Regions from separate parts of the Homo sapiens genome. Here region 2 is linked to region 1. The links come from fine-mapping of genetic effects on gene expression. A gene starts in region 1. The other region holds a variant in brackets. All regions are shown on one strand. Distances are from middle to middle.

Region 1 (2,912 bases):
GATGGAGAGTTTCACAACAAACTAAGGGATTAGTTTGTATTTTTGTCAGCATTTAATCCTTTAAAAGTCAGGTAATTCTAGAAAGGGACGTGTGGGGGATGCTTTCACGTTTAGTGTTCAGACTTTGATTCCATCCGCTGTGTTCTTTGCGTCTCAACCCCATTACACATTCCGCTCCCAGCTTTAATGTTTGCAGGGAATATATAACTCTCTTCTCCTATAAGGGTGGGATGGGTGGGAACCACAGGTCTAACTGCTCCATATGTAGATCCAAACACTCCTCCCTTTCTGCAACCCACTGCCCTTCCTTAGCCTCTGTGGCATCTCCGATGTGCAATTCTGAGCTTCGACAGGATTCCATCCTCTACTTTGTAAAATCCCATACCATTCCTCTACCTGAGGCAGGAAAATAGGGTCTGGAGGGAGAGAACATAAGGACAATTCACGCTTCAGCTGTAACAGGAAATATCCTCTCCATAGGGCGTTAACTTTGGTTTCCTCGTCTATAAAATGGAGAGAACAGTCATTTCTGCTTTGGAACATGCTTGTTAGGATGAGTAATGTAAATTGCCTCCTGCAGCGTCTGACACGTAGTGGGTGCTTGATAAATCTTTGTTAATAGATATGCCTTTATATTGATTCTTAGCTGTAGGAAGTATTCATTCAAATACATATTCAAATAATCTTTTAGCTATATTCCTGCTTGTATATGGATTCCTCTTGCCTTCTGTGAACTCCCTTACATCTCCAGGACTTCAATACAGGAATAAGGAGTACTCCAAAGATTTCTTGCACTTTCTGGAATTAAACGCTGTGACTTTAGCTTCCTTCCTTTGGATTTTAGGAGGCAGAGGCATGTATTGAGGTGGGTGAAGTGGGGTAGGAAGACCATTTCTGGGAAAATGGGCCAGAGTATTGATCTTTTTCATTATGACCCCTTCGCTTCATTAGAGTAAACATTTATTGAACAAACGCAAAGCTTGGCGCTTGTCACTCATGTTTTATTGGCGTTTTCCTTTTTTTTAATTTTTTTTTAAGCTATCTCCTACAGGAAGGATATTAGCTCTTTCATTCTCTCAAGGGTCAGATGTAATCTTCCAACATCTGACTTTCGCGTCACCCATTTAGGAAGAGACGCGGTCCCTTTAAGGCCCTGGAAAGGGTCTAAGTGTTGGTTTCTGTGGGGAGGCCACGCCCCATCACGTGACCGCAGCCCCAGCGCGGCGGGGCCGGCGTCTCCTGGCTGCCGTCACTTCCGGTTCTCTGTCAGTCGCGAGCGAACGACCAAGAGGGTGTTCGACTGCTAGAGCCGAGCGAAGCGTGAGTGCGCGGGACCCCCTACCCCTACTCCTCGGGGCCCCCACCCTCCCAGCCGGGCCGTGAGCTGCCTTCGGCCCTCCACTCCTCTCGCCGGCAATGGCCGCGGGAAATGGCGGCTCTGCCTTACCTCCCCCTTCCCCTCGGCGTCCCCGGCCCCCTTCTCCGTTTCTGACTCCACGCCTGACGCGCTGTGGGCCCTTCCGCGGTAGACTCCTGTCCCCGGGGAGCCGAGTCGAGGCGGCGGGCGCTGCGGCCCGGGGCGGTAGATTGAGGGCGGCCGGGGAGTGAGGAGTCGCGGGGAGAGAGTCGCGGCGTCCCCGGGACAATGCGGCGGCGGCCTGCCTAGGTGGGGCGCGTGCGGTTACCTACTCTTCCCCCGCCCCTCGCCCTGAGCGGGGCGCTCTGGAGACTGGGAGAGCGGATGCGGGCGGGAGGGGGCCGGGGGAAGAACGGCTGATGTGCAGGGGGAGGGAACGCTTCGAGAGAAGAAAATGGCGCTTGGTGCAAATCCCGCCCCTTCCCACGCCGTCTTCTCCGCACTTCGCCGCCTCCCACGCCCCCTCCGACCAACCTGTCTCCCCTCGCCCGAGCGGCTGCTAGCCACGGGGTTCTAGCGGCTTGCTGGGGCCGCGCGACCCCTTCCCTGGTCTTGTGCTTGTCACCTTCCTGTTATACCGAAGTCGTGTGCCCTTCAGTCCTGGTTCATTTTCACCTCGTTTTTTTCTGATCTTTCCCTCAATCAGCAAAGGCTGAAGATTTCGTTTCTCTTTTTAAAGTTGCGTTTTGTATAAATTCTACAATAGTGGTTTCAGTATCAGTTACTTGAATTACAAGCTGCTTCTCCCCCCACCCCCACATTGGAACAGGCTCATTAAGGTAAATATATATTTGTTAAAAGTTTAGAGGCTGGTTTTAGTTACCGTTACCTTTCTTCTCCAGTGGACTTCTTTGGGTTGAGTACCAGGTGGTTCTTTGAAAAATTCTTAGGCCCCCAGGCAGTTTTTGATAACAGACGGTAGTTATGATCGACAGTTTCAAAGTGAAAAATTATGTTCAATTTAATTACCTTTTTAAAAAATATCTTTTTGTCGTATTAATTAGCATAAAAAACTTAACTAAATTGATTTTAGAGATGAGGTTGCAAAATGGAGCAGAAACAGGAAAAACGGATAAAACGTGGTCATGAACATTGCTTTTCCCTTCTGAATTTACCCTTGAAGACATTACCAGTTAAAATCAGATTGAGCTTTTTGAATTTAATGGCTAGGATTGGGGTGGCCCACTTCTTTTTCCTTGACCTCCTATTTTGGAACATATGCAATGTCAGTGCTAATGCAAGTTTCATCTAGAGAGCTAGATTATTTATGATTTTTTTTTAAGGAGGAATTTTAAGTCTTTTTTTCTTGTATTAAACAAATACAGTGTGTGATGTGTTTATTAGGCCCTTTAACGCATACAGAAATTAGCTAATTTATGCCTAGTGTTCCATTATTGGAACGCTAAGCATGTGGGAGTTATTTATGTGCTACTGCTCAAGATCATCGCCAAGGTCTGCTTGCATAAATTCAAAAAATTGCAACCTCTGGCATAAA
Region 2 (2,912 bases), 56 kb before region 1:
TTCTATATATTCTGTATATAGATATAAATATATATTATATATATAAATCTATGTTTTATATATATATGTGTATATATATATATATATTTTTTTTTTTTTGTAGAGATGAAGTTTTGCCATTGTTGCCCAGGCTTCCCTCAACATTTATATGTTGAACTCCTAACCCCTAGTGTGATGATATTAGGAGATGTGGGTCTTTGGGAATTGATTAGATCTTGAGGGTAGTACATTCATAAATAGAATTAGTGCCCTTATAAAAGAAGCTCCAGAGAACTCCCTTGCCCCTTTTGCCTTGTGAGGCCTTCTGTGAAACAGTAAGTAGGCTCTCACCAGATACCAAACATGCCAGTGTTGTAATCTTGAACTTCCCAACCACCAGAACTGTTAGAAATAAATTTCTATTGTTTATAAACTACCCAGTCTATGGTATTCTTGTTCTAGCAGCCTAAACAGACGAAGATGCCTATAATAGTTGTTCAATAGGCCGGGCGCGGTGGCTCACGCCTGTAATCCCAGCACTTTGGGAGGCTGAGGCAGGTGGATCATTTGAGGTCAGGAGTTCGTGACCAGCCTGGCCAACATGGTGAAACCCCATCTCTACTAAAAATACAAAAATTAGCTGGGCGTGGTGGTGGGTACCTGTAATCCCAGCTACTCAGGACGCTGAGGCAGGAGAATTGCTTGAACCGGGACCTGGGAGGTGGAGGTTGCAGTGAGCTGAGATCGTACCACTGCACTCCAGCCTGGGCGACAGGACTAGACTCCATCTCAAAAAAAAAAAAAAAAAGTTGTTCAATAAATATTTGTTAAATGAGTGCCAAAGGATAATTTTCTTTTTTTTCTTTCCTTTTTTTTTTTTAGGCTAAGTCTCCCTCTAAGAGTAAAAAACATGCTGCCATCAAATATATAGTGAGCATGTGTCAAATATCAATCTAACTCATTTAATGAAGAGACCAGAAAGATAATAAATCTGGTTGAAGGAGAATTCAAGGAACAGAGGTTTGTATAGCAGAAAAGACATGCTGAAATAAGTTAGCTAGGTTAAAGGGAAATCTAGTTTATGTCCTACAGGTTAATAAACTATAATCTTTAGGATTGTCTTTTCTGTAGAATAGGAATCATTTGGGTCTCTAACAGACAAAAACCTACAAGTTAACACGTAACTTCATAGAATCTGGACCCTAATGATAATAATTAACAAGTCAAACAAAGGTACATTCTCCAGATGAATAACACTTGGGTGGACCTGTTCGGACAATGCTCCAGCATGACAGTGAAAGGACATACAATTATCTTTTTGCCTTAATTCTAAGATTAGGACATTAAAAAAAATAGAAGACTAAAAAATATAGAATGAATGTACAAGTGCTCCAACTGAAGTTTGGAAAGGGGAGGTCAGTCTGTTGGGGGGCAAGGCACAGGGGCATCTGCTTCATCAGGTCTTCCCCCAAAGCCATCATCACTGGATCCAGCATTCATTCTTTGAGAGCCAGCCAATGTTTCATTTTCTCTGTGAAGTCTGTCTAGATTTTCCTCTCACTCCCTATCAGGCAAACTGAGGTGGACAAACCTTGTTTTCAAGATGGTGATTGTGGCCTGGCACAGTCGCTCAAGCCTGTAATCCCAGCACTTTGGGAAGCTGAGGTGGGAGGATCGCTTGAGCCCAGGACTTCAAGACCACCCTGGGCAACA[C/T]AGTGAGATCCTGTCTCTGCAAAAAATACAAAAAGTCTGGGCCGGGCACAATGGCTTATGCTTGTAATCCCAGCACTTTGGGAGGCTGAGGTCAGGAGTTCAAGACCAGCCTGGCCAAATGGCGAACCCCCCACCCCCACCCCTCCGTCTCTACTAAAAAACCAAAAATCAGCCAGGCTTGGTGGTGCACACCTGTAGTCCCAGCTACTAGGGAGGCTGAAGCACAAGAATCACTTGAACCCAGGAGGTAGAGGTTGCAATGAGCCAAGATTGCGCCACTGCACTCCAGCCTGGGCAATAGAGCAAGACTCTGTCTCAAAACAACAACAAAAACAACAACAACCAAAATTCACCATGCATGGTTGGCATGCGCCTGTGGTCCCAGCTACTTGGGAGGCTGAGGTGGGAGGATGGCTTGAGTCCAGGAGGCTGAGGCTGCAGTGAGCCGAGATCGCACCACTGGACTGCAGCCTAGGTGGCAGAGCGAGACCCTATCTCAAAAATAAAAAAGATGATGATTGCTGTCAAGTCCCTAGATTTTTTTCCTGTGACTTGCTTATCCCTGGTTTGAGCCAAGACACTCTATTACCCTTGTTCCCCTTACTTCCCAGACCCTATTTTTGTCTGTGGATTATACATGAGAGCCCATGTGAGGATTCCCACAAATAATTGAGATGGGGTGTGAAGGAGAATTTGAAAGTGAGAGCCCAGTTTTTTTCTTTTTTTCTTTTTTTTTGAGATGGAGTCTCGCTCTGTTGCCCAGGCTGGAGTGCAGTGGAGCGATGTCGCCTCACTGCAACCTCCGCCTCCTGGGTTCAAGCGATTCTTCCGCCTCAGCCTCCTGAGTAGCTGGGACTACAGGCACACACCACCGCGCCTGGCTAATTTTTGTATTTTTAGTAGAGACGGGGTTTCACCATATTGGCCAGGCTGGTCTCGAACTCCTGACCTCGTGATCTGCCCGCCTCAGGCTCCCAAAGTCCTGGGATTACAGGCATGAGCCACCACGCCCAGCAAGAGCCCAGTTTTTACAAACAACAGATGAGTGCTAGGGGGCAGGACAACGCAAGTATGAAATGAGACCAGCTAATGAGACCAGCTGCACGCTGGTTATACAAGTATCAGAGCTGCTTTGTCCCTTGGTCCCATGAGATACTACTCTATAAAACATGCCCAAAAGCCAGCCTCACATGTCTTTTTCTAGTTTATTTATTTATTTT

What was found. PIP is the estimated chance that this variant, and not a neighbour inherited with it, causes the effect.
Region 2: its variant is fine-mapped to the expression of SUB1 in whole blood (INTERVAL, PIP 0.90).

What each region holds. Positions count from the first base shown.
Region 1 is chr5:32,584,306-32,587,217 of GRCh38, forward strand. SUB1 (SUB1 regulator of transcription) reads left to right here and starts at 1,252. Exons shown (of 5, transcript NM_006713.4): 1 at 1,252-1,320. RefSeq lists silencers at 1,426-1,525, 1,566-1,835.
Region 2 is chr5:32,528,385-32,531,296 of GRCh38, forward strand. LOC124900954 (a long non-coding RNA gene) reads left to right here. Exons shown (of 5, transcript XR_007058719.1): 3 at 862-999. Among named protein-coding and RNA genes, the nearest start is that of SUB1, 56 kb to the right of the region's middle. The variant C/T (reference allele first, on the strand shown) is at 1,693.